Linked DNA regions of Homo sapiens: all the other regions are linked to region 4. Evidence: fine-mapped expression QTL. A gene starts in region 4. Each other region holds a variant in brackets. All regions are shown on one strand. Distances are between the middles of the regions. Region 1 overlaps MYO7B (myosin VIIB). Region 2 holds the start of MYO7B-AS1 (MYO7B antisense RNA 1). Region 3 overlaps LIMS2 (LIM zinc finger domain containing 2). Region 4 holds the start of LIMS2 (LIM zinc finger domain containing 2). Region 5 has its middle 18 kb from the start of POLR2D. Region 6 overlaps MYO7B (myosin VIIB). Region 7 holds the start of GPR17 (G protein-coupled receptor 17).

The links. PIP is the estimated chance that this variant, and not a neighbour inherited with it, causes the effect.
Region 1: its variant is fine-mapped to the expression of LIMS2 in whole blood (INTERVAL, PIP above 0.99).
Region 2: its variant is fine-mapped to the expression of LIMS2 in whole blood (INTERVAL, PIP 0.97).
Region 3: its variant is fine-mapped to the expression of LIMS2 in lung (TOPMed, PIP 0.94).
Region 5: its variant is fine-mapped to the expression of LIMS2 in whole blood (INTERVAL, PIP 0.98).
Region 6: its variant is fine-mapped to the expression of LIMS2 in whole blood (TOPMed, PIP above 0.99).
Region 7: its variant is fine-mapped to the expression of LIMS2 in tibial nerve (GTEx, PIP above 0.99). The same link has a PIP of 0.9 or more in aorta, atrial appendage, breast, esophagus mucosa, esophagus muscle and gastroesophageal junction.

The regions. Positions count from the first base shown.
Region 1 is chr2:127,617,105-127,621,166 of GRCh38, forward strand. MYO7B (myosin VIIB) reads left to right here. Exons shown (of 48, transcript NM_001393586.1): 27 at 3,236-3,362. Among named protein-coding and RNA genes, the nearest start is that of MYO7B-AS1, 12 kb to the right of the region's middle. RefSeq lists an enhancer at 3,095-3,144. The variant G/C (reference allele first, on the strand shown) is at 2,045.
Region 2 is chr2:127,627,100-127,631,161 of GRCh38, forward strand. It overlaps MYO7B (myosin VIIB), which reads left to right. Exons shown (of 48, transcript NM_001393586.1): 33 at 85-211; 34 at 1,273-1,436; 35 at 2,546-2,727; 36 at 3,679-3,809. MYO7B-AS1 (MYO7B antisense RNA 1) reads right to left here and starts at 3,685. Exons shown (of 3, transcript XR_923314.3): 1 at 3,276-3,685; 2 at 2,338-2,460; 3 at 1-1,414. The variant G/C (reference allele first, on the strand shown) is at 1,970.
Region 3 is chr2:127,639,991-127,644,052 of GRCh38, forward strand. LIMS2 (LIM zinc finger domain containing 2) reads right to left here. Exons shown (of 10, transcript NM_001161403.3): 5 at 2,933-3,082; 6 at 2,059-2,209; 7 at 906-998; 8 at 280-328; 9 at 80-155. Among named protein-coding and RNA genes, the nearest start is that of GPR17, 4.1 kb to the right of the region's middle. The variant C/G (reference allele first, on the strand shown) is at 1,744.
Region 4 is chr2:127,673,482-127,677,543 of GRCh38, forward strand. It overlaps LIMS2 (LIM zinc finger domain containing 2), which reads right to left and starts at 2,049. Exons shown (of 10, transcript NM_001161403.3): 1 at 1,533-2,049. The coding sequence starts at 1,543.
Region 5 is chr2:127,838,128-127,842,189 of GRCh38, forward strand. It overlaps the pseudogene ZFP91P1. Among named protein-coding and RNA genes, the nearest start is that of POLR2D, 18 kb to the right of the region's middle. The variant C/CTTTATTTA (reference allele first, on the strand shown) is at 1,865.
Region 6 is chr2:127,632,664-127,636,725 of GRCh38, forward strand. MYO7B (myosin VIIB) reads left to right here. Exons shown (of 48, transcript NM_001393586.1): 40 at 595-700; 41 at 1,513-1,626; 42 at 1,933-2,020; 43 at 2,457-2,563; 44 at 3,059-3,244; 45 at 3,545-3,661; 46 at 3,882-3,965. Among named protein-coding and RNA genes, the nearest start is that of MYO7B-AS1, 3.9 kb to the left of the region's middle. RefSeq lists silencers at 154-243, 344-393 and enhancers at 664-893, 3,190-4,062. The variant C/T (reference allele first, on the strand shown) is at 2,450.
Region 7 is chr2:127,645,645-127,649,706 of GRCh38, forward strand. The region is part of intron 4 of LIMS2 (LIM zinc finger domain containing 2); the gene reads right to left. It overlaps GPR17 (G protein-coupled receptor 17), which reads left to right and starts at 509. Exons shown (of 2, transcript NM_001161417.2): 1 at 509-600. RefSeq lists an enhancer at 3,316-4,043. The variant C/T (reference allele first, on the strand shown) is at 2,423.

The DNA of each region.
Region 1 (4,062 bases), 56 kb before region 4:
TCCCACATCTTGACAAGCTCTGAGAAAACCTCCCAAGTCCTCTGCACATCTCACAGGTACCAGCGCACGTTTACAAGCCACGAAAGACAAAGCTAAAGTTCGCCTTTCTGTAGCTGCAAAAGAAGACGGTACAAGCCAATTTTCATCCTTCCTCTCCCGTTCACCACTTTCGATAGGTGCTGTAGGTGGGGCAAAAAATTCTCTCAAACCCTGAAATGACAAGAAAATGGTATGTACCAAACTCCAAACAAAAAAGAGAAGAGAACCAAATTCTTCCCCATGTTACCCTGATTGAAAAACTTCCCGTTCTTTGTACCTCTAGGACACTGACCAGTACCTTTTTAAAGCACTGACCTTATGCTGCCAGCAGACTTGTAACGGGGTTTTTTTTTTTTTTTTTTTTTTTTTTGAGACGGAGTCTCGCTCTGTCGCCCAGGCCAGACTGCGGACTGCAGTGGCGCCATCTCGGCTCACTGCAAGCTCCGCTTCCCAGGTTCACGCCATTCTCCTGCCTCAGCCTCCCGAGTAGCTGGGACTACAGGCGCCCGCCACCGCGCCCGGCTAATTTTTTGTATTTTTAGTAGAGACGGGGTTTCACCTTGTTAGCCAGGATGGTCTCGATCTCCTGACCTCATGATCCACCCGCCTCGGCCTCCCAAAGTGCTGGGATTACAGGCGTGAGCCACCGCGCCCGGCCTTGTAACGGGGTTTCTTATTCATCTGGTTGGTTTTAGTTTTTTCTGGGCTTTAGTTTTTTTTTTTTTTGCTCCAGCAGACCTTCCTCGCTCAAGTCCTTATAGGACCCTATTGTCCCTATCTGTTCCTGTCTGTCCCTGCAAGTTTCTCCTAGTCTTTGCTAGTCCTTGCTAGTCTTTGTCTATCCCTATCTGTCCCTATAGTCCCTGTTAGTTCCCGCAAGTCCCTGTCTTTCCCTAGCTCTCTCTATTTGTCTCTATTTCTATTTATCCCTACTTATCTCTATTTGTCCCTGCAGGCCTCTTCAGGTCCCTTCAGGTCTGTTTGTCCCTGATTGTCCCTGTTACGTCCCTGTCCAGGCAGCACTTGCAGCAATTTGCCACTGTTACTACTTGAGATCGTCATTACGGGAGTTACTACTGTCACTACTTGAGACCGTCATTACGAGACGGAACGAAGGGGGATGAACGTAGAAATGAAAACTTAAAACAAAAGAAACTGTTTTAAAGGGGCCAGGGGAAGAAAAAGGGCTCCCTACTCCTAGTAAGCAAAGACAGCCCCCACCCCAAGCTTCTTCAGCCCTTAGTATTTATTGGGTAGAATAAGCAGGGAGGAGGAGGTAACGATTGGTCAGCTGCTTAACTGATCACAGGTTCATATTATTACTAACAGGCTTCAGGTGTGCCCTGTAGATAATCACAAGAAACACTTGTGCCTGGGTCGTGACTGCCCTCAGCATTCCTTCTGGGCGGCAGACGCAGTTTGTCAGTTTGCCAACATTCTGCTTTTATGAGAACAGTTTGCTGTTTGCTCATATAGCCTCCAGTGGTATACTGAGCTGATCACGACCCTCACTCTTTCGGCCTGCATCAGTCACCCTTGAGACAGCCCACAGGGTCTGGAATTTATGAGTGGTTTGCCATTGTTGGGGCATGGAGCTTGGATTCCATCCTAAGGGAAGTGGGGAAAGTTTTAAGCAAGAGAGGATCTTGATCATATTTGACTTCCAGAAAGACCTCCCTGGCGATGTGGCAGGATGGAGCCTGGGGCTGGGAGGCCAGGCAGGGCTGCTACAGAGATCCAGAGAGAGCTGATGAGGAATTGCCCAAGGAACAGGAGCCAAGAGGAGGGGACAGAGGAAACATGCAGGAGACAGATGGTAGCATGTGGGCACTGGTTGGATCGTGGGGGCTGGTTGGATTGTGGTGGCTGGTTGGGTTGTGGGGGCTGGCTGAATGGTGGGCGCTGGTTGGATTGTGGGGGCTGGTTGGGTTGTGGGGGCTGGTTGGGTTGTGGGGGCTGGTTGGATGGTAGAGGCTGGTTGGATTGTGGTGGCCAGCTGGATTGT[G/C]GGGGCCGGTTGGGTTGTGGTGGCTGGTTGGGTTGTGGTGGCCAGCTGGATGGTGGTGGCTGGCTGGGTGGTGGGGGGTGGTTGGGTTGTGGGGGCTGGTTGGGTTGTGGCCAGTTGGATGGTGGTGGCTGGCTGGGTGGTGGGGGGTGGTTGGGTTGTGGGGGCTGGTTGGGTTGTGGGGGCTGGATGGTGGGGGCCGGCTGGGTGGTGGGCGCCAGCTGAGTAGTGGGTGCCGGCTGGGTGGTGGGGGCTGGATGGATGGTGGGGGCTGGTTGGATTGGAGGAATGAAGGGATGGGAGGGCTCCAGGATGACCCCCAGATTTCCAGTTTGGGTGAATGGCTGATGGCGATGCCTGTAGACCACAGAAAGAGGAGGGATGCAGGAACTCAGAGAGCCAGCCATGCACATTGCTTCCCATCTCTGTTCGGTGATGTCGTGTCGCAGTTGACATTGGCTTTGGTGGGAACATGTACACCACAGAAATAAGCAAATGCTGTGAATTGGGCTTTTCTTCTTGGGGGAGCTGGTTGATAAACATTTACCAGCACACCACTGAGTATTAGGGGAAAGATGCTGGCCTCTGGAGATGTGGCATTTGAGGTGTTAATGGGCCACTTTTATAACATGATAGAGGCTTGAGTCCATGGGGAAGGACGCAGGAGAGAACCGCCCCCAACACACCCCCACCAGGAGTGGGGAGGCTCCACAGACCGTGGGAGTAGGAATGGTCAGGAGATGGGGTTGAGTGGCTCCCATGAAGTCCTCACTTTTCTCTCTGCTGTGGAGGGGAGGGGCTGCATTCAGGGAGGGAGGTGGGGCCTCAAGGCAGAGAGAGAAATGACTGTAATCACCGTGAGACTGGGGATCCCGCACATCTGGGAGCAGATGGGCTGTGCAAAGGGCGCGGCTGCTGAGGACAGGGCTGTGGCTGGAGAACCTGCTGCTTCCTGAAGCCGAGCCCCACCCTAAAGGACCGAGAGCACAGGCCATGGGAGAGGAATCGAGTAGGGATGCAGAGCCTGGTGGCACTGTCCTGAGAGAGGAGGAGGCTGGGCAGGGCCCCGGCGCTGGAGAGGTGCCCTGCATATGGGACCTCTCAGAGGTGCACAAGAGCTGTGTGCCCAGGTACCCCTGTCTCCTCTCCTCCTCCAGCCCCCAGCCTACTCTCCTAATGGTCTGTGTCTTTCAGGGATGAGATTTACTGCCAGATCTGCAAGCAGCTCTCGGAGAACTTCAAAACAAGCAGCCTGGCCCGGGGCTGGATCCTGCTCAGCCTCTGCCTCGGCTGCTTCCCACCCTCAGAGAGGTTCATGAAGGTGAGAGGGTTCATGAAGGGAGGGCGGGCAGGGGGCAGGTTCTGGTGGGAGCGTAGGTGGCCCCTGGCCCTGGAGCAGGTCCACAGATTCCAGTACGTGGCCCATTTCTCCTGCTCCTGCAGGCCAGATGGGCAGCCATGCCTATGCTTCTCCAGGACTCAGTTTCCCCATCTGGAAAAGAGGACCCTGCTCCTGGCTCCTTCCAGCCCCTACGCAGGGTCTGCAGGGCCATTTCACTTTGGCTCAGGTGTCAGGATGGTGCTTCAAGACTAAAATGAGAAGGTAGATGACACGGGCCTTGAAAAGACAGGTGTCCAGGAGTGGGCCCTGCCTGGAGATGTGCCACGGCACCTCTTTCTAGTTCTTAGGACTGAAAATGGAGCTGGGTTGGCCGAGTGTTAGTGGCCCCAAGCTTCACTGATTTAATATGCCTTTAAATTCTGATTATAAAAGTAATATGTGGAAATGCAGAACATCTAAAACCAAAATAAAAGTCACCCCCACACTCAGAGCTAACTTCCGTTAATATTTCCTTCTGGCCTTTTGTGGTGTTACAGGGTCCTTGTGATCAAACAGAAAACACTTTCTCACATGTCCCTTTGGGGACAGCAGGAACCACGGTCACTGAAGCCATCTGCGCATGGCACTCAGGCTGCTCCTGACACCAGTAAACCCTTCCAGGCTGTTCCTCCCCACCCCA
Region 2 (4,062 bases), 46 kb before region 4:
CATCTGACAGGGGGCAGGGAGCAGGTATGGGCTGGGCACCCAGGGGTCCCATGCAGCCTTCACACTGCCGTCTCTCCTGGCCAGGCCCCCGCCTGCCCAAGACGCAGCTGATCTTGGCTGTTAACTGGAAGGGGCTTTGCTTCCTGGACCAGCAGGAGAAGATGCTGCTGGAACTCTCTTTCCCAGAGGTCATGGGTCTGGCCACCAACAGGTGCGGGCCCTGAGGGAAGATCTCTTCTTACACACTGAGTCCTTGTGATGCATCTGGGGGCTCGGGGAGAGATGGGGAGAGGGGCAGTGTGCCGTCCCGGGTAACAGGCCGGGGTGGAGGGACAAGAATCTACGTATGCGATGGCTTCTGTACTTCGGAGCCCCACCCTCCTGCACCAGGCCGTACTGCCCATGAAGTACTCCATTGGGGCATCACGCGTTGCACTGGCAGCTTCTCTTTGAAACCCAGGTCCACCCGGAAGGGGCAGGGAAGCGTGCAGCCTCTGGCGGGCACTTATTTAGAAGGCTCCTTTCTTTGTCATGGACGAGAACTGGTGGCCTGGAGGGTACAGGTTGTCTGGGAAGGCGACAAGGGACAGTGCCTGGTGTGTCCTGGGGCACAGGGCAGGGCTGGGGGTCCTCTTAGGCTGGGGCTGACCCCCACTCCCATGGGTCTCCATGGATCTCATTGACTGGGAACTTTTCCATGCCCTTTGGGAAGTCCCACCCAAGCCCTGCCAGAGCGCCCCTTGGTTGAAGCACACAACAGAGTGGCACATGCATCTCTGGGCTGTGCCAGGTGTACAGTGGCCACCACTCCCCACTGGCCACCTCTCACTGAGGCTGACCATGCTGGGCACTTTCCTGTATGCCACGAAGTACCGACAGCATCACCCATTCTGCAGATGAGCGGATGAGTAAACTGAAGCACGCCGAGGTTAGGTGGCTCAGAGTAAGCACATGGCAGAGCCGGCAGCTCATCTCAGCTCTGACCTTTGCAGTGTCCCTGCGGTGTCACTGCACACCAGCCACCTCATTATCTGCCCACAGCCAACCCCACACATGGGCTGCACCACTCTCAGCCTCCGAGAGGTCCTGTGCTCCGCCGTCCTTCATTTGTCCAGACCCACAGTGGTGTCTGGCCTAGTCCTGGCCCTGGCAGAGCAGCTCTGTGTCCTCATCTGTGACTCAGGACCCCCAACCCCACCTCCCGAGGCTGTTTAGGGGCTGGATCAGGGGAAGGTGGAGGGGGCTCCTGGTCACGCTGTCCTTCATCTCCAGGGAGGCCCAGGGCGGGCAGAGGCTGCTGCTCTCCACGATGCATGAGGAGTACGAGTTTGTGTCACCCAGCAGTGTGGCCATCGCTGAGCTGGTGGCCCTGTTCCTGGAGGGCCTGAAGGAGAGGTCCATTTTCGCCATGGCCCTGCAGGACAGGAAGGCCACAGGTGCCAGACTGGGTGGGGTGGGGTGGGGTGGGGTGGGGTGGGGGAGGGCCGCGCATGGGGTCTGTAGGTAGGTGGCATGCTCATCTCCACACAGCAGCCACAAGGCAAGCAGAGGGAGGGAAGGCCCCAAAGCTCTGTGGGGGCAGCTTTAGGCAAGGCCCTGCCTTCTTTCAGCCACTGCTTCCTCTTCTACAAAATGAGGGGCTAAAGGAGGTGGTCTCCAGCCCTGCATAGGCCAGCCATGCTCAGCGCTGCACTGCTGCAGAAGCACTGAGAAAGGCCAGCCCCCAGCCCAGGGAAGTTTTGAACACCATCCCCACAGCGCACTGCTGCAAAAGCACCCCATTATCCCATTTTACAGACGTGAGGCCAGAGGCCCAGAGATGGAAGTAGCTCACCCAGGGTCACACAGCTCAAGGGGGTGGGAGCCTAGTTCTTGGCCACAGCTCTCCCACAAGCCAGCACTCCATCGAGAGCTGGGCTGTGTCTGTGGGCTATGGGGGAGCATGGCAAAGCCCCAGGACCCCCGCTGG[G/C]CCAGCCTGCTGGCCGGGTGGTCATGGGCGGTGGGTGGTGTGGTTAGTGCAGGGACTTCAGAAGGGGGTGCTGGTTGGGATGTAGCAGAAGAGGCTGTGTGTGGGGTCTTTGGGCAGTGAGAAATGTCAGCCGAGATGTGCTGCCCTATCGCCCCATTCAGTCCTCACGGCCACCGCAGGAGGGAAAGAGGATTGCCATCTCCAAATTCCAGATAAGGAAGGGGTCTAGAGAGGCAGGCAGCACTCAGGCCAGGCGTGGGGACTGCCAGCCTGTGCATCCTCCCCTCCCTCATCCCTGGCTCCTGGTCAGCCCTCCGAGGGTCTCCCAGGGCTAGGGCTGCAGTCAGAGCTCTCGAGCCCCCACCCACCCTGGGCTCTGTGCCTGTGCAGCTGCAGCAGGTGACAGCCGTCTGAGGCCCCTGAGGTTCCAGTCCCACCATCGCTCACTCTTGGAGTGGTCTTCTGCCCACCACTCTATGCCTCGGTTTCATCTGTCAAAGGAGATGACCCACAAAATTCCAGCACAGCCTCTGGCCCCTGCAGAGCCCTCAGCAAATAGCCTCCCTGCCCTTACAGATGACACCACCCTCCTGGCCTTCAAGAAGGGGGACCTGTTGGTCCTCACAAAGAAGCAGGGGCTGCTGGCCTCTGAGAACTGGACCCTCGGCCAGAACGACAGGACAGGCAAGACGGGGCTGGTGCCCATGGCCTGCCTCTACACCATCCCCACGGTCACTAAGCCCTCGGCACAGCTGCTGGTAACTGGCACGCTCCCCTGTCCTCAGCCTGGGTACCCGAGGTCAGGGTGGAGCAGTCCTGGGATGCCTAGTTGGGAGGCCTAGCTCAGGGCCTGCAGCCCACCTAGCAGAGGCCAGGAGGGCCACCCGGGCAGCCCCCACCATTCCTGCGGCAAGGTGTGTGTGCAGTGCCAGCCCAGCTCTTGGTACTTAGTAGGTCCTCAATAAATGGGTGTTCCCTCCCTCTTCCATCATGGGGGTGTCCGGGGGACAAACCCAATCTTTCTCTGCCTCATTTACACTCTGACCCAGGGGGACTCAAGTCTCTCCCTGCACAAGGGAACCACCCACCCCAGCCCCCAAGACCAGCCTCTCCGGAGGCAGGAATGGCAGGCATTGCAACATGTACATACTGAGTGCTGAGTATGTGCCCTGTGCCTGTGGTACGAGTCTGGGCATAATAGCAGCTCCACCCTCAGGGCAGACATTTGGGCAGATAATGACACATGGATGGCAACTGTGCAAAGTGCCACCAAGGAGAGGAACAAATAATAGGGTGGGGAACTTACCCTGTCTGGGAAGGCATCCCCGAGGGAGGGACATTTGTGCTGAGGCCTGAAGTTGGTGGCAGACTAGGCAGGCAGGGCTGGGGTGAGAGGTGGCCCCATGGAGAAGGGGAGCTGGGGAGCTGGGGGTCTGAGAAACCCAGAGTGCCGTGGCCCCCAGAACGGGTGATGTGGGTGCCACAGCCATTGGCACTCACCCTCCCAAGGGAAAGGAGACAGGCACCAAGAGGTAGAGTCATGGTCCTGGGTCACACGGCAGGTGACAGGGGTGTGGGTAAGCCCTGGCCTGTTCAGCCCTGGGCCTGACCCCTCCCAAGTCACTGAGGCTGCCAGGCCGGGAGGAGCCTGCAGGAAGGGCCTCATGGGCGGTGGCTCCTGGGCACCCACAGGCCTGTGCCCCCTTCAGAGCTTGCTTGCCATGTCACCAGAGAAGAGGAAGCTGGCGGCTCAGGAGGGGCAGTTCACAGAGCCACGTCCTGAGGAGCCACCCAAGGAAAAGCTGCACACCCTGGAGGAGTTCTCCTATGAGTTCTTCAGGTGCCCCCCAGCCCCGCTCCGCCTCATTGCACCCCCACCTCCCAGCCCCACCTCACCTCATTGCACCCCCTGCTCCCAGCCCCGCTCCACCTCATTGCACCCACTGAGAGCTGCAGAGAGGCCACGCCACCCATGTGGAGCCTGCCTGGCCTTCCCAGGCCAGGGGAGTCAGGAGGGGCTTGCGGCAGGGTGGGGTGCTCTGGCCCTCCCACAGCCACTCAGGGGTGTCAGAGGACAGAGAAGCGTGGGACAG
Region 3 (4,062 bases), 33 kb before region 4:
TGCAGGAGGGCTGCTGAGAGGAAGGACCTGCAGGAGCCCCCTCCACCCTGAGCCCCATCCCACGATCACAGGGACTCACTTCAGGGTGAGCTTGCTGTTGCAGGTGGAGCAGGAGAAGCAGCTCACACACCAGGCCTTGTTGAGGGCCGACACCACTGTGAGGGAAGCGTGGGACTCAGCAGGCCTGGCTAGGCTGCCGCAGGCCCGGCTGGGCTCACAGCTGCAGCACCCAGGCCCCAGGAGAGCAGGTGGGGTGGGGGAGGGAACACAGGGCCTCACCATCGCCTTCAATCACATGGCTGCAGTTGTAGCAGACGTCCCCGAAGAGCTGTGGGCCGAGCAGGCTGTCAGAGTAGCTGCAGGCAGTCACACCCCAGCCCAGGGCCATCATGCAGCCAGCCTGGCCCTCCAACACGGCCCCTCTCAGGCATCTCCCAGGCCCTGCCTCCCAGGGCCCAGCTGCAAGGCTGGGTTGAGGGCACGGCAACCCATGAGAACCACCCTTCCGGGAAGGACAACAGGCTGGGGCGTTGCTCCCCAGAAGGCCCCTCTGCTCTGGCCACTGCTGTCCTGCAAGGAGGTGGGCCCAGGTGGTGACTGCATCCCACCAGCGCCCCCTGCCTTCTGTACCAGAGCAAGGGAGGGAGGGGGTTGCTGGCACTGTCAGCCCCATGTGCCCGGGACCTCACACCAGCCCCAGAACATTCTTCAAAGGAAGACACTGAGACTGAAGAGAGCTGCCCAGGTCTCGAGACCCCAGGCCAGGAGCCAGGGCTGAGGGTGCAGGCCTGGGCTCAGCACCTGGCAGAGCTCCTGAGGGGGTGCCCACAGCCTCCCTTGCTCACGGCAGCTCTCCTGGCCACCCCTCCAGACCCGCATCCCTGAAGGTTCTGCACCGGGCTCACCTGGTTGTAGTGAGTCTCGCAGTAGGCCAGGCCCTTCTTCTCATAGTGCCGGTGCCCCAGGAATGGCTTCTCACACTTGGCACAGACAAAGTGCTGCAAGGACAAAGGGCGGGCCGGGTGGCATCAGGGCTAGAGCGGTGACCCCGAGGGACAGTGGTGACCCGGGGACAACAGTGACCCCAGGAGCCAGTGACTCCAGGGGACCACAGTGGCCCCAGGAGGCAGCAGTGACAGAAGGGGACAGAAAGCAGAGTCTGGGCAGGTGCAGGCCTTTCAGGATTCACACTGGGCAGAGGGGACTGACACCTCTGTGAATGCCCTGGGGTCAGCAGACCCTACCCCTCCTCTAAGGCACTGATGGTAACCTTGTGAGTCACCATCCCCTCCCAGTCTGGCCTCCCCCTCGGCAGCCTCAGCCCCAGGAGTCAGGTGCCAGCCTGGTGCTGCGGCATGGTGGGCCCTCATAGGCAGAGGCGGCCCTGCCTGTCCACGTGGGGCCTCCTGCAGGCACCCCCTGCAAGCCTGGGATCACTGAGCAGCACCTTGCATTCCCCCAGGGATCTGCATGTGAGGATGAGGGCTGGGGGCTGGGGCCTGCATCAGGGCAGGACCGCATGGCCTCCCACCCAAGCCGCCACCCAAGGCACAGCTTCCGGACACAGCGCTGGCCAGGTCATCAGGGGAGGTGGTGGGCTCACTGTTCCCAGTGTACCCATGAGAACATGAGAGCCCACCACCCGGTGGGGGCACTCCAGGTGACCCAGTGCTCACACCTGAGGAACTCTTCAGCTCCGTGTCTGCACAGGGCTGTCCATGCAGCGGGTTCTGTCATCCACAA[C/G]CCCCAGGCACTCTGGACAGACTGCCCCCAAGGTTTTCTCCTGACCTTGGAGTCTCTTAGAATGCCAGCAGGGGGAAGAGGAGAGGTGGGCACAGCTACCCAACCGTGTGTGTGCACTCGGGTCTCCTGGCTCCCGTGGGCAGGCTGGGGTCCCTGGCTGAGCACAGGGAGGGGCAGTACCCCTGAGGAAGGGCCTCGTTGGGAGCCAGCCACCCGCCCTGGGCTGGGAGTGTGGAGGAGCTTTAGGGCTCTTACCATGACCCTGAGCTGGGGCACCCCCCAACCTGAGGCCACGTGTCCACCAGCCTGGCTCACCTCCACGTGCCACTGCTTGCCCAGCGCGTTGACCACTCGGCCCTCGATGGGCCGGCGGCAGGCCCCGCAGATGGGGACGCCCATCTTGTCATGGCAGGGCAGGCAGTAGAGCTCACCCTTCAGCTCGCGGGCCTCGGCTGTCAGCTCCTTCCTGGAAGACAGCGTGCAGCCCCCAGGTGCCACCCCTGCCCTTCTGCAGGGTCATGCCAGCAGCGCCTCCACCCCAGGGCACGGCTCCCCGAGGGGCCCATTCTGTCCCTGCAGAGCCGAGGCGGCAGCGCCTTCTGATCTCTGGGCACTTTGAAGACTTCCTGTGCCCCAGACAGGCCCTGGAGCACAGACTTCCTGCACAGCCCAGAAGAGTGGGCTGTGTTCTGCACCCAGGCCTCTGAGAAGCAGGTCTGTTCTTGGGCCCCCCTCCTCCTCCAAACCAGAGGGGGTGTCTGGATAGGCACGGAGAGGACTGGAGGGGACGGTGGGGGTGGGCGAGGACGGGGGCTGAGGGGCTGCCTATGCAACTCCTCTCTCCAACACCAGCACCAAGCCCACTCCCGGTCTCTTGCCCTGCCCCCTCAGGTCCCTTCCACTGCTCCATCTCAACCCTCGTCTGCAGTCTAGGGGTCCAGCCCACCCGCCTCCTGAGTCTCAAGTGCCCCCCAAACAGAGCCCTGGAGAGAGAAGCTTCCTGCCATGGCTGCTTCCCAGCCCCCAGCCCACCTCTGCCCTGCAGCCTTGCTCTCGGGACCCCTCTGTCTGCCCACCCTGCTCCCCTCTCCCTCCTCAACACTTCCCCAGGTGGAGGCCCCACCGCCCTTACCCTGGGCCAGCCCTGGCTCCCCGCCCCCACAACTGCAGGGCCGGGCTGCGCACCTACCCACAGTGGGTGCAGTTGAAGTGGTCAGGGTGGTAGGCGTCGCTCCTGAACATGAGGGGCTGCTCGTCGATGACCAGGTGGCACCGCTGGCAGATGTACTTGCCCAGGCCCTTGGCCTTCTCACGGTTGTGGCAAGGCCGGCAGAGATGCCTGCGGGAGGCGGGGGCATTAGGGGCAGAGCCCCCACTCCCACACAGCCTGGCCACCTCCAGGAGAAGAGAGGCCAGACCCCTGCAACTTCACTGAGCAGCTGGGGGCTTCAAAGGGGCTCAGCCCAGGGTATGGGAAAGCAGACTGCCCTGTCACAAGGCCCAGAAGGTCACAAGTGTGTCCTGGGAATGGGACGCATGCTCAGCAGGAAAGATGCCAGAATGCTCGAGGTTACTGTCTCTGGATGGTATTTTCCTCTTTCTACTTTCTCTAAGCCTGGGGCATGCTGCAGAATACAGTAGACATTTAATTGATATCTGCTGAAAGCATTATTTTCCCAATGTATTTAACACACACGAGTTATAATGAGTGTCACTGTGCCCAGCAGAGTGGCCAGTGAGTGTCCCGGGAGGCCCACTCACCCCCTTCCTTCGGGGTTTGCCAGATGAAGAAGGGCCCAAACACGTACAGGCGATTTCTGTCTCCAAAGACAAGCACTGCTATGTCAGATGGAGGCCCCCAAACCCAGGAACTGTCACTACAGAGTCTTTTTGTGAAGACCTCAGAATAATTTCTGATGCTACTCGCTGTGTTGGACGACAGCTGTGTTCTCAACGGAGAGACAAATCAACATGGTTTCTGTTTCCTTGGACCTCAAAGGTGGCAGGAATCTAGATTCAGAGTCCCCAGGCAAAGATACACAAAGGCCCCAATCCAACCTCCCTGGCCCCCGTCTCCACCTGCCACCCGAATCTCTCTCTGGTGCTCCTGCTGCATCCAGGCCTCCCTTCCCAGGCCCCCCAGCCCCAGGGGCCCTCTCCACTCCTCACGAGCCTCCACGGCTGCCCGACGCCCAGTGTTGGCCCCTCTGACAGGCTGGTCAGGGAGGATACGGAAGAGATCCAATCGCAGACCCAAGATCCCCACCCAGGTTATGGTGGGCAGACCCCAGATGCCAGGGCCACCCATTCAGCATCCCT
Region 4 (4,062 bases):
CTGCCTTCCCAGCGGTTCCGGCCGGGCTCACCTGACGGCCTCCGTCTCCAGGGAAAGGCCCAAGGGACTCAGGGGCAAGAGGACCCTTGCCAGGGAGCAGTGGCACCTCGGGGCCTCCCATTCCAGCCCCGCACCCTTCACGGCTCTGTTCTCCTCGACATCCCTCCTGTGCCTGAAGGAACCGCCTCTCACCCACCTCCACCTCAATGCTGCTGCTGGGGCTGCTCCGGACCCTGTTCCTGTCTCTCCCCACTTTCTTTTCCTAGAAAACAGGAGAGTGAGAACCAGCCAGCTGGCAGGGATGCTCTGAGGAAAATGGGAGGCAGCCCCGCTAGAACCCTAGGGGGTGACCACAGGCAGCCAGTGGGCCTGCAGATGCCACTCTCCGGGGGATGAGTCCCTCCATCTCACTGCAGAGGGGCCTGGGCCAAGGCTTAGAGGTGACTCCAAGTCAGGGGAGCTAACTGGGAAGAGAGGCTTGGGGAGAAGAAAGGGAAGTGTGTCTGGAGGGCAGGACTTACAAAGTGACAAGTTACAGGCTATTTTTGGTTCCTGGGCTGCCCTGAGACCCCAGGCCACAGCCTTAATGGCGATCACAGAGGCAGCTCCCCTGTGGGCCTCGGATTTGAGACTGCAATCCTGGACACTGCCCTGTACCCTCCAAGCCCCTTTCCCCAGCAAAGCCACAGGTCACTCTCCGGGCTGGGGCTCCCCAAGAGCCCCAGGTCATGGGATCCTGAAGAACAGCATCCCCCTGCCAGGACTTGGCTGGGGGAGACCAGGGCCTCAGGGACAGCCCCCTCCCACCCAGTCCTGAGTCATGCACTTGTACCCAGCTAGGTTCCAGAAAGGGCTGCAGGGACAAACACTGGCCGGACACTGGTGGACCTGTGACTGGCCTCCTGAGTGGCTCAGCCTCTGTGGCCTCTGGTGACCTCATCTGTGAAATGGCAACGAGGGGCCTGAGAGCAGAGGGTGGGCCAGGCCCAGGGGAGCGCCCTGTCCCCAACCAACCCCTGCACAGCTGGTGCTTGGGCGCAGCTCTGGCCAAGTTCCAACATACCCTTCAACATTTTTAACATTTTTACCACCCCAGGTTTACAGAGGAGGAAACGGAAGGCTCCAGAGATGACACTCACCGGGATCGGGGATCGCACAGCGCGGGCTCGGGGAAGTTGGGGGAGGCACGCAACCTTTGAACCTTTTGCCCGTGGTTGGTGTCTGACCTTGGACAAGACCCCCTCCCGCAGCCCTGGGCGTCGGTTGTGAGCAGACGGCTGTCCCATCTTGCAGCGGGCGGGTGGGCAGGAGCTCCACCTTCCGCTGCAGGCGCTCGCCCAGAGGAAGAGGCGCGGGGGCTGGGGGACCCCTGCCCCGACGGGCGCTGCCGCCCCGGCAGCTGCGAGAATCCGACGCGCCAGGGCGGAGCGGGGATCGTGGCGCCGCGGGGCTGTACGAGGGCGAGCTGCGCCTCGGCCAGGGGTCCCGCAGTCCCGCCTCCCCGGCCCGGGGGCGTGGGTGGGGGCCGTTACCTTCCCGTCATGGTGGCAGCGACGCCGAGCCCTGGGTTGCCGGGGTTGCCGCGGGTCTCCCTCTGCTGCTGCAGCCGCCAGCCGAGCGCCCGCCCGCCAGCCCGGGCCGCGGAGCAGGGAGACGCCCAAAAAAGGCCAAGAGCCGCTCCGCCCGCGAGAGGGGTGGGCGGGGGTGGCAGGGTGGGGCCCGCGGGGCGGGGTGGGATGGGGAGGTCAAGGCTGAGGGTGGTGGGGGTGTTGGGGAGGTGACGGTGGGAGGTTGCGGGAGTATAGGTGGGGGTGGGGGTGGCAGGTGGGGGTGGCGGCGGGTAGGGTTGGAGGGGTGGGGGTTAAAGGTGGGGCTGACGGTGGGGTTGGAGGGGTGAGAGTGAGGCGGGGGTGGGAGTGGGGGTAAAAGTAGGGGTAAAGGTAGAGGGTGGGCCCCGCTCCCGCACAGCCCCAGCTCCAGGGACACGGAGCGCGGCCAGCGGCGGGCGCGGGTCAAGTCCTTCCCAACCCGGGCTCTGCTCGCCACCTCCTGGATTCCGGGCATAGCTTTCCTTTTAAAGGGAGTAAAGTTATAATAAACGCGAACAAGCACCCCCACCCCCACAGCCCCGCCGGGACGCCCCGCCCGGCGCCCCCTCTGCAGTCCCTGGGCCGCCCCAACCGCAAACGCGTGCAGGAGATGGTAGGCGTGGGGGCGATGCTGAGACCACCTCCCTCCCGGGCTTTCCTAGCCCGGAGTTCCCACCGCGGATCTGGGCACTGACTCCCTCCCGAGGCACCCGGGACCGCCGAGTCCACGCAGTCCCGCCCCCAGGGAGGCTAAAGCCGAGAGGCGTCCCTCTTCAGTCGCAAAGCTGCTTTCCCCGGGAAATTCCGATTTCATCCCCCGTTGCGGGCCATCGCCCTAACTTGGCGAAAGATATTTCTTAAACGACAAAACCAAATGCCCAGCTCCCAGGTTTCCAGGGGAACCAGGCACGCCTCTGTATAATGAAGCGCTGAGAAGCTACCATTAGAGGCGTTAAGATGGAGGGGTAATATAAACTATTTAGGGAATCTCTTCGGAGGAAATTTTCAAACAAACAAAACAAAAAACCCCCGCCCTGCCTAAAGGCAGATATTTCCAGCTGGACAGTGGCGTGCAGCTCATCTTTGGAAGCAGCCCAGATGTCACACTGAGGTTTGGGAGCTGGGCGGCCTGATGTGTAAATGTGGTGCTACTCCGGTCTTGGCAGCAGAGAAAGATGATCTAGAAATGACGGTGTGAATTAGCAACCCACAAATAAACTGGTGCCGTTCAGAAAGATGAGTTGATAGTATCCTGCAGTTCCACCTGCAGAAATAAGCTGGGAAAAGACACCTGTTCCTAAGTGGCTGGTATTGTGGAGTGCCTTTGCAGTTGTTACTTTTTTTTTTTTTTTTTTTTTGAGACGGAGTTTCGCTCTTATTGCCCAGGCTGGAGTGCAATGGTGCAATCTCCGCTCACTGCAACCTCCGCCTCCCAGGTTCAAGCGATTCTCCTGCCTCAGCCTCCCAAGTAGCTGGGATTACAAGCATATGCCACCACACCCAGCTAATTTTGTATTTTTGATAGAGATGGGTTTCACCATGTTGGTCAGGCTGGTTGCAAACTCCTGGCCTCAGGTGATCCGACTGTCTCGAGTTATTACTTCTTGTTGCGAGCGTGTCTCAGCTGATTCGGCTTAACTGTAATTTGATGGTTGATTAAGCTTAAGTATGGATAATTTCTTGGCTCACCTGCTCATACAGGGAGAAAGGCTTTCCACCATTACTGACACAGAGGTGTAGGCATGCTGGGGCCGTGCACCAGAAATCCACTGCTGGACGGTTAATTGAATATCAGGGTCTTGTGGGAACCAAAGAGGATGAAAAGTTGAAAGCATTACACCAGAGGCCCATGCTCTCCACAGAGGAGACCACATTCCTGCCTTTTAGCCCAAAAGCCTCCCTGCATATGATAGCTGAGCACACACGGATCTGTATGTGGCCAAACCAGGACCCTATGCAGCTCCCAGTGTGCCTCATCCCTGGGCCAGGGCAAGCTCAGTAACAGCTGGTAGGGGTTGTGGGCATGGCTTAGCCCTGCTGGAGATGCAGAGGCTTCAAGGAGCCAGGGCCAGCCTCCCACAGTTCAGCCAAGAGGGCAGAGTTGCAGGAAAGAGCTGGCAATCACACATTCACACACTTATCCACTTGTTCCTTCAAGAGTATTTATACCGCATGGGCACTGGAAGTACTAGGGGGAGAAAGAAGCCATGGACCAGGCTCTCATGGAGTTTAGCAGGAGGTGGAGGATGGGCAATAAACAAATAAATAAATACGCAAACTAGATTTTAGACAAGGGTAAGTGCTGCAAAGAAAAGGACAATGGTGGTGGCTGCTTTAGAGTGAAGGGTGAGGGAAAGTTTCTGAGCAGGTGACATTCAAGCTAAACCAGAATAAGGGAAAGAGCCAGCCCTCAGCCATCTGCAGGAAAAGCATTCCGGCAGAACAGCAAGTGCAACAGCCCTGAGGTGACATG
Region 5 (4,062 bases), 160 kb after region 4:
TTGTATTTTTAGTACAGACAGGGTTTCACTATGTTGGCCAAGCTGATCTCGAACTCCTGACATCGTGATCCTCCCACCTCGGCCTCCCAAAGTGCTGGATTATAGGCGTGAGCCACTGCACCCAGCCCACATCTTTTTGTTGTTGTTGTTGGAGATGGAGTCTCGCTCTGTTGCCCAGGCTGGAGTACAATGGCACAATCTCAGCTCACTGCAACCTCCACCTCCCAGGTTCAAGCAATTCTCCTGCCTCAGCCTTCCAAGTAGCTGGGATTACAGTTGCCCACCACCACGCTTGGCTAAGTTTTGTATTTTTAGTAGAGACCAGGTTTTGCCATGTTGGCCAGGCTGGTCTTGAACTCCTGACCTCAGGTGATCCGCCCGCCTCGGACTCCCAAAGTGCTGGGATTACAGGTGTGAGCCACCCCACCGCGCCCAGCCACAAATAAATATCCTCACCCTTGTCTGTGTTCTCTGCTATACATCTTATCAAATCTTTAGACAGTCTATTGACTTCCTAAAAAGTTAATGATTTTGGTTGTGTGCAATGGCTCATGCCTGTAATCCCAGTACTTTGGGAGACTGAAATGGGTGGTTTCCCAGGAGTTCAAGACCAGCCTGGACAACAGAGTGAGACCATCTCCAAAAAAAAGTGACTTTTAAGTTTTAAATTTTTACATGATCAAGTCTTTCCATCGTTTATTTCTTCTGTCATTGCTGAGTTTAAAAAGTATTGGTTTTCAAATATCTCATAACTTCCAGTTCCCTTTGAATATGAGGATGTGTTAAACTCTGTATTAATAAGGAGAATACATTTGGGACATGCATGGTCTCAGGGTGTTTATATGACTTGGGAAACAGAAGTTGGTCTGAATTTACAAAGACATCAGTCTGTGAATCTGGAAGTATTCCTGTGCAGGGCCCATATTAGTAGCATTACAAAATATAGATATTGGAAACCTAAAAGGTGAACATGTTGGGTTTGTTTCCTTCTTCTGTCTTCCTTTCCTTCTTTTTGCTTTTTAATCAGACGGGGTCTTGCTATGCTTCCCAGGCTGGTCTCTAACTCCTGGGCTCAAGCAATACTCCTGCTTTCGCCTCTGAAAGTGCTGGAATTACAGGCATGAGCCATGGTGCCCAGACTGAAATTCAACAGACAGGTTATATGCCCACTGAAAAGGCAAAATTAATTAGAAAAGAGGTTATTGGCTGGGTGCAGTGGCTCATACCAGCACTTTGGGAGGCTGAGGTGGCCGTATCACTTGAGACCAGGAGTTCAAGCCCAACCTGGCCAACATGGTGAAACCCCGTCTCTACCAAAAATATAAAAATTGGCTAGGCGTGGTGGTGCGTGGCTGTAATCCTTGTTACTCCGGGTGCTGAGGCAGGAGAATGGCTTGAACCCGGGAGGTGAGACTCCATCTCAAAACAAACAAACAAACAAAAGGTTATCATCAAAAGATTAATCTTTTCACTATTCCCCAATGTTTCCTTAAAACAGTTTTCATAATTTTGTTTGACAGCATTAGTGATAAAGAGGCAGACTTTATTTATTTATTTATTTTGAGACAGAGTCTTGCTCTGTCACCCAGGCTGGAGTGCAGCAGTGCCATCTCAGTTCACTGCAACCTCCGCCTCCCGGGTTCAAGCAATTCTCTGCCTCAGCCTCCCGAGTAGCTGAGATTACAGGCACCCGCCATCACACCCAACTAATTTTTGTATTTTTAGTAGAGACGAGGTTTCACCATCTTGGCCAGTCTGGTCTTGAACTCCTGACCTTGTTATCCGCCCACCTCAGCCTCCCAAAGTGTTGGGATTACAGGTGTGAGCCACCGCGCCTGGACTAAGAGGCAGACTTTAATTTTTG[C/CTTTATTTA]TTTATTTATTTATTTATTTATTTATTTGAGACGGAGTCTCGCTCTGTGGCCCAGGCTGGAGTGCAGTGGCGCCATCTCGGCTCACTGCAAGCTCCACCTCCTGGGTTCATGCCATTCTCCTGCCTCAGCCTCCCGAGTAGCTGGGACTACAGGCGCCCGCCACCACACTCAGCTAATTTTTTGTATTTTTAGTAGAGATGGGGTTTCACCATGTTAGCCAGGATGGTCTTCATCTCCTGACCTCGTGATCCATCCACCTCGGCCTCCCAGAGTGCTGGGATTACAGGCGTGAGCCACCGCGTGTGCCCGGCCTTAATTATTTATCTTTTTGAGACAGAGTCTCACTCTTGTCGCCCAGGCTGGAGTGCAGTGGCATGATCCCGGCTCACTGCAACCTCTGCCTCATGGGTTCAAGCAATTCTCCCACCTCAGTCTCCCGGGTAGCTGGGACTACAGGTATGGACCACCACGCCCAGCTAATTTTTGTATTTTTAGTAGAGATGGGGTTTCACCATGTTGGCCAGGGTGGTCTCGAACTTCTGACCTCAGGCGATCCACCCGCCTTGACCTCCCAAAGTGCTGGGATTACAGGTATGGGCCACCGCGCCCGGCCTCATGCTTCTTTATGTGCCAATTAAGAGACGCCTTTTGCCGATAAGTAAATTTACAGATCTCACATTGTAATAACGGCTTCTCGCCAATGTGAACAATCTGGTGCACTACCAGATTGTGGGAACTCTTGAAGGCCTGAGCACAGTATTCACAGACAGAATCCCTTTGATCTGTATGATGTTTGGCATGTCATAGAAGTTGCTTCTGGAGCCTACAGAGTAGTCCACAGGAGGGATGCAGACATACGTATTTTTTCTTCAACAAATGCTATTTAACGTGGTGCTGTCAATAGCCAGGATGGGCAAGGACAGTTCCACATCCTTCCATCTCACAACGGACATACTGGGTTGCAGGCTTTTTTCTCCTTCTGGGTAAATGTGGACTTCTGCCATCTTTCCATCTTCTTCCTCTCTTCCTCAGAGGTTCCTTATCCTCCCTAATTTCATTCTCCTCTTCTTTCACCTCTACCTCTACTTCCACTTTAATTTCCCTCCTCTCCTTCTCTCCTTTCACCTTCCCTGATTTTCGCGTGGCTTTGGGGTTTCCCTTTCTAAGAGGGGTTTGTAGGTCTCATCTCTTGGGTCAACTTTGAATAGCATCTCCTCTTCACTGATTAATCTCTTCTTCTTCCTCCTTGCTAATGCCACCTGGAGACTGATGCTCTTCTCCAACATCATAATCGAGTTGGTCTGTACTTGGTTCTGATTTGCAGATGAGCTGCAATGAACCAGTCTTGCACCGAGAGCTTCAGGTGTTCTCTGTATCACCATGAGGAGAAACACATGTCCTGCTCCTACTGCACCATCCCCAGCTAGGTCTGGATGCAGCAATGTAAACTTCCCGAGGGAGGGCAGAATCATCTTCCTCTTTTTCTTCTTTGCAATCTTTATCAGTTGTTGGCATAGGAGTCGTGGACTCTTCTTGCCCTGAACTGGAGGTAGGGATTTTGCAGCCTGGGGCTGCTGCCTGGGGACATCGGGAGGCCTGGCACGGGGGGCTGCTCCTCCCGCGCTGGGATACTCGGCCTTCCTCTGGTGGGATACAGCAGCCCTGCCTCGGTCCCGACCTCCCCTCAGCCCGCGGCTGCTAGTGGTCCCTGCAGGCGCCACCGCCGCCTCAGGCGGCCTTTGTTGGGGGGCTTGTCAGGAGCTGCCTTGGCCGAAGAGGCAGACTTCTAAAAACAGAATTTAGGGTACATCGAAATATAGGACTCAGTGAAAGTGACATGCATCTTTTGATCTCAGAATTTGGGGGATCGACGTTTGATTAATGTTCCTGTTATCACTGCTGCTCTTGTGGGCATTGTTCATCTTGCTGAAATTCTCTTTGATCTCAGTGCCCTGCAGGTCATTGTTGGTAGCTAAGAGCTGCACTGTCCAATACATTAGTCACTCACCATATGTGACTATGAGAATTTTAAACTTATGGTCGGGTGTGGTGGCTCACACCTATAATACCAGCACTTTGGGAGGCCAAGGCAGGCAGATCACCTGAGGTGAGGAGTTCAAGACCAGCCTGGCTAACATGGTGAAACCCTGTCTCTACTAAAAAAATACAAAAATCAGCTGGGCGTGGTAGCGGGTGC
Region 6 (4,062 bases), 41 kb before region 4:
GAGGGATAGAGAGAAACCTGGATGCCCCAGCCCAGGCCCTCAAGGCTGAGGTCAGAGGCCCATCCTTCCAAGTCCATGCGGCCTCCCTCATCCGCCCACAGCCGTGAAGCTCTTCCTTGGCCGTCTTTGCTCTCCCCCACCCCTCCTGCCTCCTCTGGCTTGGCCTCCTGTGGCCGTGAGGAGGGCAGGTTGACTGTAGGAGTGGCCATAATTTCAGTGGCAGCCGTGGTCACAGAGAGAGGTGGGCGCCCCATAGAGGCCCTGCCAGAGTCCCTGGCCCCTGCCCGATGCCCCTGTTGTGCGAGAATAAGAATACTGCCAGCCTTTCCTGCCGGCGCCTTCCCGGGAGCCCCTGGCCTGGCCCTTCCCCGTGTGTGCCCCAGGCTTTCAGGCACAGCTGCACCATCACTACCTCTGAGGCCGCGTGGAGCCAGGGGCAGCCCCCAGGACATGCGAGGGGCTGGAACCACCCCAGTGATGGTCACTGGGGTTTTCTTTTGTTTCTGGCACATGGTTTAGGGCCCACATCGGGGCTGGGGCATGGGTGAGGATGAGGGTGGGGGTGGCACCTGCAGCACACGCTGTCCCCCTCAGGACGGGGCCCCGGAAGCAGCCCCCGCACCAGGTGGAGGTGGAGGCCGCAGAGCAGAACGTCTCCCGCATCTGCCACAAGATCTACTTCCCCAATGACACCAGTGAGGTGAGGCCCTGCTCTGGTCTGCACGGCAAGTCTCAGGCCTCCAGAGGCCATGGGGCATCCTCCTTCCTGGCCCAGCCTGCTCCTTGGTAACCCCAGAGAGCCTTTTCTAGGGCTGTCCCATCCTAACCAGTCTCCCGCCCTCTCCCCATGGGATGCAGGCCCCACCTGCCCTTGGGTGCTTTGGAAGTCAGGCCAGTCCCAAGGTATGAGTTGGGGGATCCAGGCCCAGGACACAGGAGAGGACAGAGGGGTGGGCAGCAAGGGTGAGTCCCAGGACTTGGGGGCCCCTAGGGGCTTCTGACCATCTGGGGTGCAGGAGAGCAGGTATTCCCACTGTGTGTGCCTTGTGCACAGAGCCTGCCATGGCTGCTGGGGGAACAAAGGGGCCAGGGGGCAGGTAGGAGACCACCAGGACCCCACCGTGACACAGAGGCCTTGATCAGGGGCAGCAAAGACAAGCGGGCTGAGAGGCCAAAGTGGGCAGTGTCGCCTCGCGCCCTCTCCAACAGCACAATGGTCTTTTTGGCCTTGATATTCGGGTCCCGGTAACAGGAAGTTCCCACAGTCTGGCTGCTGGGCTCTCAAGGCGAGTCAAAAGGCCAGGCCTGCAGGGCCCCAGGACAGCGAATGCTGGGACTAAACAACATGAACCTCTGGCCAGGGTTCTGGAAGGGAGGCTTGCCCTGCTCAGGGCAGACCACATCCAACCCAAGTTTCATGAAGGAGCAAAAGTGCCAGGCTAGGAAGGCTCATCCTGGGCTGTACTGGCCCCTAGCCAGGCCCCGGGCCTCACCAGCTGCCTCTCTGTCCAGATGCTGGAGGTGGTTGCCAACACACGGGTGCGGGATGTGTGTGACAGCATTGCCACCAGGCTGCAGCTGGCCTCCTGGGAGGGCTGCAGCCTCTTCATCAAGATTTCAGACAAGGTGGGCCGGGCTGGGGCTGGGCAGACGGTGGGCGGACGGGCAGTGAGCGAGGCCCTAGGTGCTGCCTGTGGGGGCCTCAGCCTACCAGGGGCACCCATGCTGGACCAGGCTGCACGGCCAGGGCTGCTGGGACAGAGGTAGGTGGGGTCCTGGAGCAGAGCCAGCTCCACACGCCAATAGCCCACGCACAGCCGACTCCAGCGCAGCACCCAGGCCGTAGGCGGCCACTGGACCAGAACCCAGCAGGTTCTCAGGAGGACAGTCCCCGGAAGCCACCCAACTTCCCTGTACCTTCCCCTTCCCCAGGTCATCAGCCAGAAGGAGGGAGACTTCTTCTTTGATTCCTTGAGGGAGGTGTCTGACTGGGTGAAGAAGAACAAGCCCCAGAAAGAAGGTGAGGAGGCCTCTGTGGAGCTGGGGGAGGGCGTGGCTGGGTGGGTCGAGGGGGCACTGGCGGCCTCTGTGCGGCCCATGCCCATTCATCCATCCATTCGTTCCCGTGTGTCCCTGGGTTGTGGGAACAACCAGGCCCTGGGGCCCGGCGGTGAGGGCCAGCTCAGGCAGAAACAGGTGGCTGCACCTTGGAGTGATGAAGGATGCCCCAGGGCTGAGGGGCATGACCCTCATGGGCTGGGAGTGCGAGTCCAGGAATGTTCCTGGAGAAGGCAGCCTCTACACTAATATTGAAGGAAAATGTGGGGACTGGGGAGGAAGAAGCGTGGGGGCTTTCGAGGCAGGGAGGTGGCAGGCGCAGTGTGGGGGGTGGCAGGGGGTCAGGGCTGGTGTACCTGCTGGGACAGGCTTGGTGCCCACTGCTGGCCCT[C/T]GCCCAGGGGCCCCCGTGACGCTCCCCTACCAGGTGTACTTCATGCGGAAATTGTGGCTCAACATATCTCCAGGGAAGGATGTGAATGCAGACACCATACTCCATTACCACCAGGTACCGGGCAGGCTGCCCTGGTGGGCACTGGGGCCACCCCCATCTTCCCACACCTGTTCTGAGGCTGTAGAAGCCAGCAGGCCAGGGCAGGGCCAGCCTCAGCCCTGGGTACCAGCCCATGTGGTAGGCAGACCAAGCCCCTGAGGGCTCTGGAACCAGGAGCAGAGGGCAGCAATGTTTGGGGACAGTGACTGCACTGGCACCTGCAGCATGACTTGGAGAGGGTGGGACAGAGGGTCCTGTGACCCATGGAGCAGTGGCCGTGGCCTGCAGGGCCAACCACATGGGTGGAGCAGGCCATCACCTCCACGCAGATGTCAGGGGGCCCTGCCCTGACTCAGGGTCATTCCCCTGGCCTGAAACTCTCTACCCTGCTCAGTCCGTCCTGGATGGAGTGGGCTAAGCCCCAGTTCCCCACCATCTGAGCGGGAAAGAGGTTGGGGGCGGGTGGGCCGCAGCTGGAGACCCAGCATGCCCAGTGTGTCCATCACCCAGGAGCTGCCCAAGTACCTGCGCGGATTCCACAAGTGTTCGCGGGAGGATGCCATCCACCTGGCGGGCCTCATCTACAAGGCCCAGTTCAACAACGACCGGTCCCAGCTGGCTAGTGTCCCCAAGATCCTGAGGGAACTGGTGCCTGAGAACCTCACACGCCTGATGTCCTCGGAGGAGTGGAAAAAGGTCCCTGGTCGGGCTGGGGAAGGGTTCTTGTGCTGCTGCTCCTCCCTGGGCCCCTGCACCAGTGCCATGCCCTGCCTGGGCTCCAAGATCACATGGGTGCACATGGGTGGTGTGGAGGGTGGGCTGGCTCTGCACACACCACGCCTTCCTATGCCATCCACAGCACCGAGACTGTCCCATGCTGCATTCCTCCCCTCCCCTCCCCACCGTACTAGCCCTGGGGTAGGCAGGTGCTGCCCCCACCAGGGCTTTGGAGGGCCTCTGGGCACCCAAGTCCTTACTGGCCCTCCTGTCCCCCAGAGCATCCTTCTAGCCTATGACAAGCATAAGGACAAGACAGTGGAGGAGGCCAAGGTGGCCTTCCTGAAGTGGATCTGCCGGTGGCCCACCTTCGGATCCGCCTTCTTCGAGGTGAAGGTAAACCTTGCCCCACGCCAGGGCCTCCTACCCAAGCAGGCTCCGCTCAGCCCAGCCCCAGCAGGCCCAGCGTCAACCAGCACACATCTTGGGTGGGGCTGGCCGTGAGGCTGGAGGGCGTGGGTGTATGTGTGTATGTGCGTGTGGCCTAGATGAGCTCCTGGGAGGTGCAGCCTGGCCTCCCGGGCTGGACTATGACCGCCGTGTCCCTCCCTCCCAGCAAACCTCGGAGCCTTCCTACCCGGACGTCATCCTCATCGCCATCAACCGACATGGGGTTCTGCTCATCCACCCCAAGACCAAGGTAGCTGCTGGGCCTCCGGAGGGGCTGGGGGCCACCAGGTCCAGGGACCTGTGCAGGTGGGGCTGCAGTCATCTCTGCGGTGTGTCCTGCCTCTCTC
Region 7 (4,062 bases), 28 kb before region 4:
GCCCAAATGGGGCCTCATTATACAGGGCAGGACACAAGGACCCTACAGCAAGTGTCCTCAAAGAGTCGCCTCTCACTCCGTGAGCAAGACTCCTCGGCCTCCCACCCTCCGTTCACAGGCCCCCTCCGCCGTCTGCGGGCGCAGGCCTGGGAGCGCCGCCTGTTGCCATGACAGCCGGCCCCTCCCTGCCCCCCATCAGTAGGAAATCATCCCCTTCTGAAACGTCCTGTTGTGTCCCTCAGCTCCAGCCCAAGCCCCCCACCCAGCCCCCGCCTGCTCTGAGTCTCTGAGACAGTCACACACTCAGACTATGTGGCCAAGCTGGGGGCGGGGGGCATGGGCTAGGGACACACTAGAATATTCACGCTCCGGTGGCAGCAGCAGCAGCAGCCAGAGGAGCAGCCCGACACAACAAGGGACCCCTCAGGAATGAAGCAGCCTTTCAGGGCCAGAGGGGCTGTGGTCTCCCTTCCTCTCCTTAAATAGCCAGCGTTCCACCCACAGCGGCAAGGAGCCCCCTGCCACCACCGACACCCACGGGCGGAGATCACCTGCTGCCCCGCAGACCCCTGTCCCTTCCTCCCGGACCAGCAGCTAGAGGTAAGGGGCAGGCTGGGTGGGGTGGACTGGGAGCCCAGGGCTAAGCAGAGGAAACACTCAGCGGGGAGCCCTGCCCAGGGAGACAGGCAGCAGCCTGTCTCGTCCCATCTCTTTGGTGATGGTCTGACCTGTGCATCGAAGGCTGACCACAGTCTGAATTCACAGCAGCCCACAAAGCGGTGTTTCGTCCCTCTGATGGGGGCTTGCAGAGGGGAAGTGGCTTGCCGGCAGTCCAGGCTGCAATGACAGCACCGCTGCCCCTAACCATTAGGCAGCCTTGACCCATAGAGGAGCCAGATGCCTGGGAGAGGGCTCGGGCCAGGGATGGAGTGGCGCTAATGCAAAGGAAACTGCCACCACCTGGCCATGGCGCTGCCACCACAGGCCCTCCCCGAGGCCACACATGCCCACCTGCCACCTCCACAGAGGCCTATGACCTGTCCTAGATGCTCGACTCACCCACAGCCACGGGACCCAACACTGCCCAGGCCCCGGCCCATGCCACGCCCTTTCCTCTTACGGACACCGGCTCGGTGGCCGTCTGACCAGTGAGTCGTGAGGAACCAGCGAGTCTAGACTGAAGTTTGTGTTTCTAAAGGGCAACAGAGAGTGAAGCGGGGCCCATCTCAGACCAAACTGCAACAATCAGTATCAGAACTCCTCAAACGGGGGACAGAAAGGGAGAAGAAACCTCAGCAAACCTGAAACCAACCAGAAAGCTGTTTAAAATGGAGTCTCAGTCCCAGAGAGAGCGAGGGGCACGCCCTTCGGCCCGGGCAGGAAGTGGAGGGCAGTGCCCAGGCTGAGGCCCCCGGGCTGGAGGCAGGAGGCACCACAGGCCCACCTGGTGCCATGAGATATGCCACCCCTGCCGTCACTCAGGGCCCTGAGCCCAGTAACACTCTGCCGTCACTGTCCTGAAACTCTTCCTTTTTGAGCAAGGGGCTGCACATTCTCATTTCATACATGGGCCCCTAAAATGAGGGAGTGGCCCCAGGGCCAGGAGGGGGTGCTGAGCCTGGGAGACAACTCCATGGCAAACTCTGAGACTGAGTCACACTCCCCACCCTGGCGGTCTTCCAGGGAGTGAGACCGTTTCCCCGGTCTCACTTCCAGCTCCAGGGCCAATGTCCCCTGGTCAAGTGACCTAAGACAAGTTAGCAGACACTCAGCCTTGACTCCCTAACCTGCAACATGGGGCTAAAACTGGTTTGAGCCAGCACAGGCAGGCCCCCACCATGCCAGGCAGAGTGGTCAGTCGTACCTATGAGCTGCTCTCTCGTGGGGCCAGGTGATGCCTGCACTGTGGGGCACAGCACAGGCCTGAGGGACAGCCTGGGGTGGAGGGCACCCACCTTGGCCCCTTCCCACCCCCAGGTTCTAACAAGGGCCCCTCACTCACTGGGCCCCCTCTCCTCTTCCAGTCTCCAGGGCCTCCCCGCACACACCTTCCTCCTCTCCTGCCAACCTGAAAACAGCACACCTGTGTGCCCCTCCCATCTACCATGGGCTGTCCTCTCTGCTTGCCCATGCGTCTGCCCTGGAGCCCTGTTCCTCCAGTCTCCGGGTCCTCACCCCCAGCACATGCAACACGACACCCTCAAAGTCATGGGCCCCCCTCCCCTGCCACCGTCCCACCGGTACCTGCTCCCTGTTCTCCCCTGCCTCACAGGCCCTGTCAAGGGCTGTGTTCCTCCCTCCTTTTACCTCTCCTCCACAGCCCCCTTCACAGCCCTCAGCCCTTCCCCAGGGCTTCAGCCAAGCCTGTCTCCCTCTCCCAAGCATCACTCACCCCGCCTTCTTCGGCCCTCAGCTCTCCGCC[C/T]TCACCGTGGTTTTAGCAGTCCTAGGGAAAGTGCCAGCCGAGACCAGCCAGACCAAGTCAGAGTACTGTGGAACCTGGATTCCTGGGGAATGGGGTCCCCATGAGGAACTCCACATTGGACTAAGAACAGACCCTGTTCCTGGAAGCAGCAGGAAACCATCTCTGGTGTTAGAACTTCAGGCATCTTGAAACACTCTGAAGCCGGGGGCAATCTTTTCAGGTAGGGGAACCTGCCTAGAGAAATAGCTAAAAGGTAATATTATTAGGTAGTTGCCCTCCCCTTTGCTTGAGGACATTGATGGCCAGGTGCTCGGGCCAGCCCTCACCCTCCATGTGAGGGCCACAGCAGCTGGCCACTCGCTCTCCTGAAGGAAGGGTGCGGCCCACCCTTCCCTAGGGCTAGGGCCACCACCATGCCTGCTTCTCCTCCATATGAGGATGGCTCCAGCCTCCTCCTCGAGGGGCTGCTGTGTCCATGAACAGTCACCATGCCCTCTCTGCCCCGTGCCACCAGCATCCTGAGACAGCCCTGTGGAATCAGTAAGAGGAGAGGGGCTGGGCGCAGTGACTCATGCCTGTAATCCCAGCACTTTGGGAGGCCAAGGAGCACTTTGGGAGGCCAAGGAGAGAGGATCACTTGAGCCCAGGAGTTTGAGACCAGCCTGGGCAACATGGCAAAACCGTCTCTACCAAAAAATACAAAAATTAGCCGGGTGTGGTGGTGTGCGCCTGTAGTCCCAGCTATTCAGGAGGTTGAGGTGGGAGGATCACTTGAGCCCTGGAGGTTGAGGCTGCAGTGAGCTGATTGCACCACTGCACTCCAGCCTGGGTGACAGAGGGAGACCTTGAAAAAGAGAAAGAAAAAAAGAAAAAAGAGAGGGAGGGGAGGGGAGGGGAGGGGGGGAGGGGAGGGAGGGGAGGGGAGGGAGGGGAGGGGAGGAAGGGGAGGGAGGGAGGAAAGAAAGAAAAAGAAAGAAAGAGAAAAGAAGAAAGGAAGGAAGGAAGGAAAAAGAAAAGAAAAAAAGAAAAAAGAAAAGAAAAAAGGAAAATAAAGAAAAGCAAGCAAACAAGCAAAGCGAAGTGAGAGAGAGAGGAAGGTAGGAAGGAAGGAAGGAAGGAAGGAAGGAAGGAAGGAAGGAAGGAAGGGCAGGGAGAAATGTGCAGAGTGAATTTGCTGCAGGCAGGACCCCGGCTGTTCGGTGCAGAGCCAGGCTCGCCCAGGATGAGGACCCTGCCAGGGCTGTGGCCCGTGCCTCCTCCCCTCCTGCTGCCACAATGGGCACAGGCAGGATGCCAGCTTCTCTTATGCAAACCTCTCTCCAGCCTCTGCTTCAGCCTGGCTGTGCAGGGTGGGGATGGTGGATACTGGGAAGCCAGGTGCCCAGAGGAGCCCCAGAAGCTGTGCCATCATCAGCACCCACCTGGCCGAAGCCCGCTGGTGACCCCAATTCAAAGGCAGGCCAGGTGCGCTGTCCTGCCCTGGTTCCGGGCTGCGGGCTGCTCTGGCCCCACCGCCTGCCCACACTGCCACTCGCAGGCCTGGGTTGGGGAGGCAGAGTGTTTGGGACCCTCACTCTCCTTCTTCAATCTTCTGAGTTGACTAAAATCAAAACAAGAGTGGGTTTCTCTGCTGAGGGTGG